Regions from separate parts of the Homo sapiens genome. Here all the other regions are linked to region 2. Evidence: fine-mapped expression QTL. A gene starts in region 2. Each other region holds a variant in brackets. All regions are shown on one strand. Distances are from middle to middle.

Region 1 (4,236 bases), 78 kb after region 2:
CACAGTGGCTCACGCCTGTAATCTCAGCACTTTGGGAGGCCGAGGCAGGCAGATCACTTGAGGTCAGGAGTTCGAGACCAGCCTGGCCAACATAGTGACACTCTGTCTCTACTAAAAATACAAAAAACTTAGCTGGGTGTCGTGGTGCATGCCTGTAATCCCAGTTACTCCGGAGGCTGAGGCACAAGAATCACTCGAACCTGGGAGGTGGAGATTGCAGTGAGCCGAGATCGTGTCACTGCACTCCGGCCTAGGAGACACAGCAAGACTCCATCTCCGAAAAAAAAAAAAATACAGTAGCCAAACGGAATGAGAGGAAAAGAAAAGTTTGTGGGAATTCTAAGATCACTATAAAAATGTCGTGAAGACTAAGTTAAAAAATACTTTATAGAGCTTTTCCCAAATAGAGGGTGGGGAGAAACATGTGTTGTAATTAACAGTCTCTGTAGTCTTAACACAAGGTTTGGAGAGAATAACATCACACGAGGGTAGCATATTGTGCTAAAAATCAGTTTAAGTCAACTCTATAAACACCAGCGTGAAGTGTTTTCCTTGGAGGAGGCCCCAAACGCTACAATGTACGGCTTCATATATTAATCTCTCAAACTCCTGGCTATTTTGAGAAATGAATCTGTTTGCTACCCCACTGGTCACTGGCCAAACACATCCTTCTATCAATCCCAATCAGTCTGTGCTCGGCTGACAAAGCTCTCTAAGTATTTGCCATTCACTAGAAAATTTGCCACCATAGCATGAAGTACCCCACCTCTGAAGGTAAAGTACCCCTTCACCTCTGGCCCAATACATAATTTACAGACAGCTGGACCAAGCTCCAGGTATAACTAGCTGTAACTAGTTATAACTATAACTCTGGCTATAATTAGCTACATCTTTGCCGCACCAGAATGTTAATTGGTGAAAGTCAAAAATACAATTTTTACCACTTAGAAACCCTAACCCCAGGTAACACGAAAAAGGGCACATGCCTATGTACACAGAAAACAAACGTCTCCAGTGTTTGCTTCCCCTATATTTTGAATCTCTGTACAAATTTGGCTGCATTTGTGACAGAATCACAGGACAGTATGAACCCAAAGGCTGTCCTGGAATCTGCACCTCATCTACCCTCAAATGAATACAGCATTTACAAAGGCCTGACTCACCGAGAGGAATTCCGTGAGCTCTCGCTGCAGGAGCAGTTTCAGTTCCCCCTTGCTGAGCTTGAATCTCTTCCTTTCCTTGCCAGAATAGCGGTGGAAGATTCTAATCATGGTGTCCATGGCCATCTCGAGCTGGGTGGGCATGTCGGCAGCAGAACTGACCACTCCAGAAGCAGGCCACCAAACCCGGGGAGAAGACACTTGTTCAGAATAAACAGATGAGGAAACACCAACACTTTCATTAAAACAGAATATTACAATCCCCCGAGTCAGCTCGCCACACAAGTGATGGTTGTTAAAAACATAATAGTCTGCGCAGGCGCGGTGGCTCAAGCCTGTAATCCCAGCACTTTGGGAGGCAGAGATGGGTGGATCACAAGGTCAGAAGATCGAGACCATCCTGGCTAACACGGTGAAACCCCGTCTCTACTAAAAATACAAAAAAAAATTAGCCGGGCGCGGCGGCGGGCGCCTGTAGTCCCAGCTAGCTACTCAGGAGGCTGAGGCAGGAGAACGGCGTGAACCCGGGAGGCGGAGTTTGCAGTGAGCCGAGATCGCGCCACTGCACTCCAGCCTGGGCGACAGAGCGAGACGCCGTCTCAAAAAAAAAAAATTAATAATAATAATAGTCTTTCATTAAAGAGTGTTCCACCCTTGCTGGGGCAAGCTGCAAATAAGCACTTCGCAGCTGAGTTGTTTCTCCTCGCTAATCCCTACACCCCCAAGAGGTAGCAGCTCCAGCATATTCATAAGACAACCAGGTAACAGGTACAAAGTCAAACTAAAATATAGAATTTAAAAATAAATAAAAATAGGAAGGAAAATACCTACCTGTTCAACAGATACACAGCTCTGTCAATGGTTGTTTACCATTAAACTATAAGCATTTATACGTGGGGGAGGGGGAAACGTTCTCCCCAGCACACCTGTTTCCGGGAAGATGAAAATTGCCAGTGACAAGAGATTCAAAGGGAGGTGCCTCTGCTCCGTATTTAATCACCAAAATGAACAGGTGTGAGCTGCTGCCCCAAGGGTCATTGAAGAAGGCTAGTGCTCATTGGGTGCATTAGATAAGAAGGCAAAGACAAAGCAAGAGGAAGCCTTATCTCTCTTTAGGGGAGTGTGGATAGAAATGCAATTAGTTGCTAGGAAGCTGATGATGGGGAAGAACTCTAAAAATAGGGGAGCAAAGAAGAAACACTAGTTCCAACCTGGAGATGACTCAGCAAAGCCAATAGCAAGGACAAGGGAGTAAATTCATAGTAGATTAAACTAACCCAAAGGACAGTTGAAAAAAAAAAAAAAAGAGGAAGTGCTCCACGCACTGATTTAGAAAGGTACAAAGCAGTGCTCCCAACTGTGTAAAAAAGAAATAATACATGTGTATGTGTGCTTGCAGTTACCTAAGGAGTCACTGAAAGGAAACAAAATATAATACTATGTTGGGAGCTGTCAGGGGTAAGGGGGG[A/GA]AAGGGTAGAACAGAGTGGTTGGGAGTAAGACTTCCCAGTGTACACCTTTTTAAGTGATTTTAACTTTTTCAGTTATAGGAATGTATTACCTAATAAAAAAGTTGAAATAAACCTCAGAGCAGCTGTGTGTGCAGGAATCCACAACAGATTTCCAAGTGAGAGAAACTTAATAAAGAAAGAGTCCATGTAAAAACCAAAGCCAGATATTGGCCACTGTGCTTTTAAATCCTGCCTGTTCTCTCAGGACTGAAACTTAATTATACGGAAAGCAAGCCAGGATCTCCTTTTTATTTCCCTTCAACAAAGTAGTCAGTATGTAACCTCAACCATCCCATCTGCCCCTGGCCTTGCTGCCTGGCTACTCCACTGCAACCTCCCTGCAAGGTTCCCAGGAGGTGTTCACTGTACACCTAACACAAAATTTTCAAACATATTCAGGCTGGGCACAGTGGCTCAATCCTGTAATCCCAGCACGTTGGGAGGCAGATCACTTGAGGTCAGGAGTTCGAGACCACCCTGACCAAAATGGTGAAACCCTGTCTCTACTAAAAATACAAAAATTAACTGGATATGGTGGTGCACGCCTGTAGTCCCAGCTACTCGGGAGGCTGAGGCAGGAGAATTGCTTGAACCCAGGAGGTGGAGGTTGCAATGAGCCAAGATCACGTCCCTGCACTCCATCCTGGGTGACAGTGAGACTCCGTCTCAAAAAAAAAAAAAAAATTGTTAGTTTTTATTGTCAAAGTAATATAGGTAAAATAATATTTTGAATACTTAGGAGTATGAAATAGTAAAATTCTCTCTCACCATTCCCTACCCTAGTAATTACCCTTTGTAAATTTTTCCTGTGTGGGAGGCAGTATCATGGTGGCTAAAAGCATGAACTGCCTGGCTTTACCTCTCACCTCTGCCACTAGTTGTGTGATCCTGTGCTGGTCAATTAGCATCTATGCTGCATTTTCCCCATTAGTCTAAATGGGGATGACCATAGCACCTACTCAGAATGGAAAAAACAAACTCTATACAATATTTATTTTATTTATTTATTTATTATTATTTTTGAGGCAAGGTCTGACTCTGGTTGCCCAGGCTGGAGTGCAGTGGTGCCATCACAGCTCACTGCAGCCTCGACCTCCTGGGCTCAGACAATTCTTCCATCTCAGCCTCCCAAGTAGCTGGGACTACAGGTTCACACCACCATGCCTGGCTAATTTTTATTTTTATTTTTGTATTTGTAGTAGAGATGGGGTTTTGCCATGTTGCCCAGGCTGGTCTTGAACTCCTGAGCTCACGCAATCCGCCTGCCTTGGCCTCCCAAAATGCTGGGATTACAGGTGTGAGCCACTGCACCCAGCCTTATTTTATTTATTTTTTTAAGACAGAGTCTTGCTCTGTCACCCATGCTGGAATGCAGTGGCCCAGTAATGGCTCACTGCACCTCAACCTCCCAGGCTCAAGCGATCCTCCTGCTTCAGCCACCTGAGTAGCTGGGACAACAGGCACATGTTATCATGCCTGACTAATTTTTTTATTTTTGTAGATATGGGGTCTCCCTATGTTTCCCAGGCTGGTGTCAAACTCCTGGCCTCAAGTGATCCTCCTGCCTT
Region 2 (4,236 bases):
AATCTAGTCCACATTAGCAAAATTACCAACAACCCAGCTACAAATTATTTCTAACGCATGTGACAGGTTCCAAAATAATCCTACTTTGGAGATGTTAATCATGATTATTTTAATTGGACAGTAGAGCTCCATCAGCCATCCCATGCTGCCCTGTTATACTTATGGAGTCTGACGACTGGAATCGAGGAGGCAGTGAGCTTAGGGGTCTTGTCCTGCCCTCCCACCTATCTCAATCTAGATGCCCCCTCGGCAGCCAGTCCCCTACTGCTCCAAAATCGGGTCACCCGCGCACTGAAGACAGCCTCTGTGCTCTCGGAACGGCTCTGCCGAGCGTGGACCAGCAGGAGCGAGGCGGGCTCAGATGTGAGACGTGTGGGGCGGGCCTTCTAACCAAGACGGCCCGCTTGGTGGACCCCAGCACTCGAGCTTGTTGGGTTTTAATCATTTTTCCTCGGCCCTGGATTGCGTCAGAGTTCCGCGCTGCGAGTTCAAGTCTTTAGAAGTTCCTAGGGCCTCGAAAGCGCCCAGAAGGGAATTTAAACCATGGCAGCGTCCAGAGGCACCGGCCCCAGCCCCACTGGATGTGTGTGGGTCGAGGTCTTCGGGTAAGGGCGAGATTCTCGCCGTGTGGGGGTCCTCGAACGCGCCTCTCCGACTCGGGCACCAGCGAAGTGTCTAAGAAGTGCCACTGGCTACCTACGCTCAGCAGCCCCACGCTGGGTGCAGCGCCCCAGCCCTTTCCAACCCTCCCGTGCCGCCCTCCGGCTAGGTTGGCTGGCCGTGGGCGCCTCACCTTCAGGAAGTCGCCGCCCTGACAGTCGATGGAGACCTGGTCGTAGTGGATGGTAATGAACTCCTCGGGCTCGCTGATGAAGAAGGCTGCGCAGTGCAGCTGCGGCCGGTCGGCGGTGAAGGTGAACTGGCCCTGGAGGCTCAGCATGTCCAGGCACCCTGGGGGAGGAGGGCATGGGGCAATAAGTCCCGGGCTGCAGCCGCCGCAGCGCCGTCCTCGGGCGGCCGCTCTCCGCGCGCCCCATTCCCGGGCTCTGTAGTGCCCAGCGCCCCGACTTCCAGCCTAGGCTGCGCTGGGTTCCTGCGCCCCGGGCGCGCCACCCTCTCCCGCTCCTGGCGCGCCTCCGCGGACCGATCCTTAGCTAAGGGGACCGCGCCCCTGGCGGTTCCGGCCAGCCCCTTCCCCGAGATGTCCGCGAGCCCTCTGCCCCCCGCACAGAGTCCCACCTTCCCCGCGTCCCGGGCGCCCGCGAGCCGGGCAGCCTCGACTCACGCAGAGCGCGGCGGTACGGCTGCTCCCCAGCCAGCTCCCGCTTCAGGTTGGCGCTGAAGAGCAGGAAAGGATCGTAGTCCGCCGCTTCCCTCAGCTGGCAAGAAACATAGGTCAGTCCGGAAAAGTTCAAGGGCTGGGGATAAAAAAGGGGACCAGGAGCGGGGCACCCTCCCTGCCACTCAGCATAGCGAATAAAGAGAGAGGGGTAATGTTTTCCCGTGTCCGGAGAAGACGGGAAGGTCTTAGACCCTCTCCATCAGGCCAGGGTATCCCCAGCGGCCAGAGGAAGGCAGGCAGGCAGTCTGGGATGCTCAGAGGCAAGGAGGGAGAACAGGATAGGGGAAACCAGGGGCAAGACAGCATCCAGCAGAGAGGGAAGAAACAGCGAACCCCAAAAGGCTGCGAGCAGAGGCAGCCTGCCTGCCGCCTAGGGCTAACACGCAAGGAAGGTGAGATGGGTCAGTCCAGGGGTGGCTCACCTCTAGGTACCGGCTTTCCCCTCTTAGAGCCGTCAGGAAGATGAGAATGAAGTGACACTGAAGTTTGAAGTTGGGCGACATGCTGGCCTTGCCTCTGCAGCTGCTGTGCTCTGCTCCGGAGGTCCTGGGCTTTCCTTCCTACACCCTCGCGCAGACTGAGAGCTAGAAGCTGGTAGGGTCCCTTTGCTGGGTCTCTTTTATAGAGCAGTGGGGAGCGGAGGCTCTCTGCCCCTTAACTGATCGGAGCTCAGTAACCATGGGTTACCCTGTCTCATTGACAGAGTACGTGGCGATGACGAGGGTCCAGCTCTCAGCCACAAATTTTCAGCGTGGCCCAGCATTATTCACCAAGAATGATTTCAGTCACTACAACTTAGTGCACTAAAGTGTTGGAGAATGAGGCGGAGACAAAGAATAAGGGAGTGCATTTTGTTGACCTGCTAAATGCTACATTATACTTTTCTGTGGGCATTCAGGGAATTTTCCATTTTGCAAATCAAAGTGACAAAGTTACATACACGCATAAAATACCCAAACATATAGAGCCTATATTATGCAGCCTCATCACATAACCTTGGATGAAACCATGCTAGAAATTGTCAAAGAATTTAGTATTCATGGAATTTCTCATGTCTCTCAGTAAGAAACTTGAGGCATTTTCAGCTTTAAAGAGGTGGAACAGAAGCAGAAGTCTGATTTTGCAGAAGATTGCAGTAATGCAATTATAAGCTTTCTTCCTGCCCCTTACTCTTTGCTTTATCCTGGTCCAGTTTCTTATAGGCATTTCTTTCATGGAAAACTAACTCTGGTGTCAGGGGACTTCTGGATTTTAGCTGAGCTCTGTCACTTGACCTGGATGTTTACATGATGTACACACTCCTAGACCAGGTAGCTGTAGCCATGACCTTCGCATCCATCTGAACCACTGAGAGATGAGATTAAGTCATTCCATTTCGTGCCTTCAAATACCTGGATTACTTTAACACTCTGGTAGAAGGAACTGCCAGGAAGCTTTATTGTAACTGCTCACCAGCAAATTTGCAGGGCTAAAAAGATGACTTAGGGATCCGGAAATAAGTATAAGCTTATCTCTGCTTATCAGGAGAGAAGAGAATTTCTTCTTTGTGTCCAAAACTGTGGGAAACATGAGGATGCTCCACTATTGGCTTTCCTACCCCTTTCCAGTCTCTGCACCAAGCATTGTTATTACAATTATTACAAATAGACCATAATACAGAGTTATAAAGGAAGGAATGGCTATATTTTCAGTTTTAAAATACTCGAAATTAAACAGTAATTATCCTGGCAGTGTCAGAACTTGATTATTTTCATGTCAGGACAATTCTGAGCTCTGGAGAGGCGGCCTCTTTGTTGGTTTAATCAGGAGGCCTTCGTGCCACAGTCCAACTTTGTAAGCAGTCCTCAGACCACAGACAGTGAGAGGGAAAAGAGTACCTAAAGCTCATGGACACTGGCCACCATGTCCTTCTCATCCCAAGGGCTGTTTAGATGCCTGAATTTTGAAAAGGTTATAAAGAAACCTGGGAGGAATAAAAGAGGAGAAAAACAAACAACTTAACCCCAACTTGCTGGCCTCAAACATGCCAGGCCATCTTCAGCTCTATCTCCCACCCTTTTTGTGCCTAGAGGGAGCCTTAGGCCCACTCACCAGGCATGCCACAGGCCCTCTTCTCTTTCCCATTGATGTAGCCACAGCCCTTGGCCTGTTCCCAGAATTCAGTCCAGCACCCACCTTGGAGACCTCTGCCTTTACCTCTTAGGGGGTCTGGCACCTGATGTCACTCCAGCTCAATGTTGCTTTGTTAGCATCACCAAGGAGACATTCTTCTCCAGCCAGCCCCTTTACAAGCATATGCACATGTGCACATGTGCACACACACATGCACGCATGCACGTGCACAGACAACAGTGATGTTCCCACCCTGCTGTCATGATGCCCACTCCTCAGGAACCACACACAGCAAGAGCTGGGATGAATGAGCACTAACATAGTGACTGATTTTACAAACATCATAGCATAGCATCTGATTTTACTTAATCCACAAATTATAGTACAAGATGGACCTCATTCCCACCAAATTCTAGGTGGATAAATTAATGTGTAGTTTTCACCAGTTTGGTAAATATCTACTAAGCCAGTGGAAACTACCTTTTCTAAAAAAAAAAAAATTAATGGTAATTAAAAGATGGAAACTACAAGCTATCGAGAAAAACTAAGAAGATTAAATTGGAAGACAAGGAGAAGCCAGGTAGCCATTCTCTCTGAGAGAAAGTATTAAAAATAGGTGAGAGAAATGGAAGAGTAATTTGGATTAGGCCGAAGAAAAATTTTCTGGGCAATAAGTAGGCCTATGTGTGAAGACTAAGGATAAATTATTTTCATGGACTGCTTTGGTCATTCAAACAATTAGCTTAATATTTGAAAGTTGTTTGTTCAAGCAAACTGGATTT
Region 3 (4,236 bases), 39 kb after region 2:
ATGTTAACATAACATTTTAAATTAATGCTTGTGTAATTTTTTGTCCTTTTACTTTCAACATACGTTATTGTATTTGATGTGAGTTTCTTGTAGAGAACATATAATTAGGGCATGTTTTTAATCCATTATGCTAGTTACTGTATTTTAATTTTTATAGTTAAACCATTTACATTTAATGTAACTATTGATATGTTTGGGCTTAAGCCTACCACTTTATCTTTTTTATTTATTTATTTATTTTTATTTTTTATTTATTTATTTTCTTTGAGACGGAGTCTCGCTCTGTTGCCCAGGCTGGAGTGCAGTGGTGTGATCTCGGCTCATTGCAAGCTCCACCTCCCGGGTTCACGCCATTCTCCTGCCTTAGCCTCCGGAGTAGCCAGGACTACAGACGCTCACCCCCATGCCTGGCTAATTTTTTTTGTATTTTTTTTAGTGGAGAGGGGGTTTCACCATGTTGGCCAGGATGGTCTTGATCTCCTGACCTGGTGGTCTGCCCGCCTCGGCCTCCCAAAGTGCTGGGATTACAGGTGTGAGCCATCACGCCCAGCATTTTTTTTTTTTTTTTTGAGATGGAGTCTCACTCTGTCACCCAGGCTGGAGTACAGTGGCACAATCTCAGCTCACTGCAAGCTCCGCCTCCCAGGTTTACGCATTCTCCTGCCTCAGCCTCCCGAGTAGCTGGGACTACAGGTGACTGCCACCATGCTCGGCTAATGTTTTTGTATTTTCAGTAGAGACGGGGTTTCACTGTGTTAGCCAGGATGGTCTTGATCTCCTAACCTCGTGATCCACCTGCCTCGACCTCCCAAAGTGCTGGGATTGCAGGCGTGAGCCACCGTGCCCGGCCTTATGTGTCCGGAATTGATTCCTTCCAGTGGATTCTTGGTCTTGCTGACTTCAAGAACAAAGCCACAGACCCTTGCGGTGAGTGTTACAGTTCTTAAAGATGGTCCGGAGTTTGTTCCTTCAGATGTTCAGATGTATCCGGAGTTTCTTCCTTCTGGTGGGTTCGTGGTCTCGCTGACTTCAGGAGTGAAGCTTCAGACCTTCACTGTGAGGGTTACAGCTCTTAAAGGTGGTGCGTCAGGAGTTGTTTGTTCCTTCCAGTGGGTTTGTGGTCTCGCTGGCTTCAGGAGTGAAGCTGCAGACCTTCGCGGTGAGTGTTACAGCTCTTAAAGGTGGCACGTCTGGAGTTGCTTTTTCCTCCTGGTGGGTCCATGGTCTCAGTGGCTTCAGGAGTGAAGCTGCAGACCTTCACGGTAAGTGTGACAACTCATGAAGTTAGTGCGGACCCAAAGAGTGAGCAGCAGCAAGATTTATTGCGAAGAGTGAAAGAACAAAGCTTCCACAGCATGGAAGGGGACCTGAGCGGGTTGCCACTGCTGACTTGGGTGGCCAGCTTTTATTCCCTTATTTGGCCCCACCCACATCCTGCTGATTGGTCCATTTTACAGAGAGCTGATTGGTCCATTTTACAGAGTGCTGATTGGTGTGTTTACAAACCTTTTAGCTAGACACAGAGCTCTGATTGGTGCATTTACAATCCTTTAGCTAGACAGAAAATTCTCCAAGTCC[C/A]CACCCAGCCCAGAAGCCCAGCCGGCTTCACCTCTCAATCCCCCCTCTAAACAGGATGCCCCAACTGCTGTTGGGAATTTGGCCGATGACCGCTTTAGCTACTTCCTGCTGGATAAGGGCAAAGAAGGAGCCCTGCAGTTGTAATGTCCTCCAGAGGGGAACTCTTTAGGCCAGTGGAAGGGCCAGCAGGTCAGTCCAGGGGTCCTCGGTAGAAGTTGTTGGTTGAACTCATTTGGTGTTCCACTTGTAAGACCATCTGTGGCTTGATGGCCTTGATTCCAGAGGAAACAAATTTGACAAAAAGGTTAAAAATATAGGGCCCAAAGGTGAGTAACAGCAAGATGGCTGCCATGGGACCTAGAAAGGGGAGAAGCCATGTTGCCCAACTCCAGAAGTTGGTATAAGAGCTTGAAAGGTGTTGTCTGATTTCAGAAGCCTTTTCCTGTAAATGCCGGGCAGCATCTCGTACTATCCCTAACTGGTTAGTATAAAAACAGCACTCTTCCCCTAAGACGGTGCAGAGATCTCCTTTCTCAGCAGTGAGGAGGTCTACGCCTCTGCGGTTTTGGAGAGTCACTGCCGCCGAAGAGTCTATTTGGGATTGTAGAGTAAGGATAGATTTTGTTATCTCTTGCAAACTGTCTGAGAAATCCTTTGAGAGTGTGTGGTAGTAGGATAATACATGTTACACTGTTAACTTTTAGCAAACTTTAGTTGAAAATCTTGTAAGTTTGGGATTTTTTCTTTGCTGTTAATAAAACCTTGTTCAGTCCATATTAACTTAGAATTGGTATAGATAATTCCTTCCTGATTCTATAAGATGGCTCCTTCCTGATTCTGTTTGTCTGAGTGCAAACAGCTCGCAGGTTTGAGCAGACATATCATTAGGCAATTTTCCTAACTCTGATTTTACAAGAGTTTCTTTATCACTTACTGAATATCCATTGTGTCTTTTTCCCTTAATCGCCTGGGAGGAAACATCTATCTTCCTGTCCTGAAGGGAGTTCCTCCTTGGTCTGATCGGACCTTTGTATGGTAATTAGTTAAGATTTAGATCCCCTGTTAGGAAACCTGCTGGGTTAAGGATTTTTGATAGGAAGGCTATGGGTTGTCAGTGGCCTCAGTGCTTTCAGGCTACGCCCTTGTTTACACTGACAACAAGGTGGTATTGGAGTGTTATAGGGTTACAGAGAAGACCTTCAATTATCAATTATAGGTTCTAAAGTTACCTTGGCTTTTAAAGGAATAGGGTATACGTTTTTTCTTTACTACTTCCATCTCTCTTTCTTCTCTTTGACTTCTTCTTTGTCTCCTTCTGACTCCCTTTTTGTCTGTCTCTTCCTCTCTCTGACTCTCTCTGTCTCTCTGACTCCCTATTTGTCTCTGTCTCTTCTCCTCTCTCTCTCTCTCTCTGACTCCTTCTTTGTGTCTGTCTCTTCCTCTCTCTCTCTCTTTCTGTCTCTTTCTCTCTTTTCTTTCTGCTGGTCTTTCCTTGCCTCTGCCAGCCACTTATGCTGCTGTTCTCCCTTCTCCTTCCCCTTTTTGATGGCTTTGGCAGTGTAAGACTGCCACCTCCTTGAGTATTTGCACTGAGTGCAATCACTCCATGATTTCCTTGTCGTATTTTATGGGGGTTCCCCCCAGAGGTAACTCTCTTTCTTCCCATATTACAGCATGGGCATGTAGGATTAGATAAGCACATTTGCTATCCGTATACACATTTATTTTTTTTTCCTCTTTCCCAGTTCTAAGGCTCAGGTAAGCACCACTAGTTCTGCTAACTGGGCCCTTGTCCCTGGGGGAAGAGGCTTACTTTCAAGTACGGTTACATCATTAACTATGACATAACCTGCCCTTCATATCCCACTCTCCACAAATGAACTTCCATTGGTATATAGGTTAAGGTCAGGATTAGCTAAGGGGACTTCTAAGAGATCATCTCGGGTGGCATAAGTCTGGACTATAATTTGTTGGTGATCATCCTCGATTGGGTCCCCATCCTCTGGGAGAAAAGTGGCAGGGTTGAGGCCATGCACATATGTATTTGAAGCACCGGTCCCTCAAGGAGTAGCACCTGGTATCTAAGTAGGCGGATGTCTGATACCCATAAACTTCCTTTGGCACCTAGTATGCCATTTACATCATGAGTAGTCCAAACAGTGAGATCCTTTCCTTGTATTATTTTGATAGCCTCTGACACTAAGCCAACGCCGCAACTACCCTTAAACAGTGAGGCCAGCCTTTTGCTACTACATCAATTTCCTTACTTAGGTATGCCACTGGTTGTGGGGTTGTCCCACGAGTCTGAGTAAGGACTCCAAGAGCTAGCCCTGCACTCTCTGTGATGTATAAAGAGAAGTATACAGGGGCCTGGCTATCCCTCTGTATCCAGGGATCCATAGTCAGCAAAAGCCGGTGATTCCAAGGAACCCCCGCAACTGTTTTAATGTCTTAGGGTGAGGATAAGCCAGTATAGGCTGTATTTGTTCCTTGCTGAGGGCCCTGGTACCTCTGGCTAAGATCAGGCCTAGATATTTGACCTGCTATAGGCAAAGCTGGGCCTTCGATCTAGGCACCTTGTACCCTTGATTAGCTAGAAAGTTCAAGAGATCTAGAGTAGTCTGCTGGCATGAGGCTTCAGAACTGGTAGCCAAAAGT

Direction of the effects. Alleles are on the strand shown, and positions count from the first base shown. SD is a standard deviation of normalised expression in the study named. Not every link is listed here.
With allele GA in place of A in region 1, the expression in iPS cells of the gene that starts at base 1,935 in region 2 is lower (moderate effect, 0.42 SD a copy in HipSci).

The links. PIP is the estimated chance that this variant, and not a neighbour inherited with it, causes the effect.
Region 1: its variant is the best candidate, but not a certain one, in a credible set for the expression of CRHBP in iPS cells (HipSci, PIP 0.52).
Region 3: its variant is the best candidate, but not a certain one, in a credible set for the expression of CRHBP in whole blood (TOPMed, PIP 0.55).

Annotation. Positions count from the first base shown.
Region 1 is chr5:76,872,428-76,876,663 of GRCh38, reverse strand. It overlaps S100Z (S100 calcium binding protein Z), which reads right to left. Exons shown (of 5, transcript NM_130772.4): 3 at 1,164-1,360. The coding sequence starts at 1,304. Among named protein-coding and RNA genes, the nearest start is that of S100Z, 25 kb to the right of the region's middle. The variant A/GA (reference allele first, on the strand shown) is at 2,629.
Region 2 is chr5:76,950,744-76,954,979 of GRCh38, reverse strand. It overlaps CRHBP (corticotropin releasing hormone binding protein), which reads right to left and starts at 1,935. Exons shown (of 7, transcript NM_001882.4): 1 at 1,765-1,935; 2 at 1,286-1,379; 3 at 794-951. The coding sequence starts at 1,845. It also overlaps a transcript of S100Z not described here. RefSeq lists an enhancer at 523-1,209.
Region 3 is chr5:76,911,638-76,915,873 of GRCh38, reverse strand. All of the region lies in intron 4 of S100Z (S100 calcium binding protein Z), which reads right to left. Among named protein-coding and RNA genes, the nearest start is that of CRHBP, 39 kb to the left of the region's middle. The variant C/A (reference allele first, on the strand shown) is at 1,579.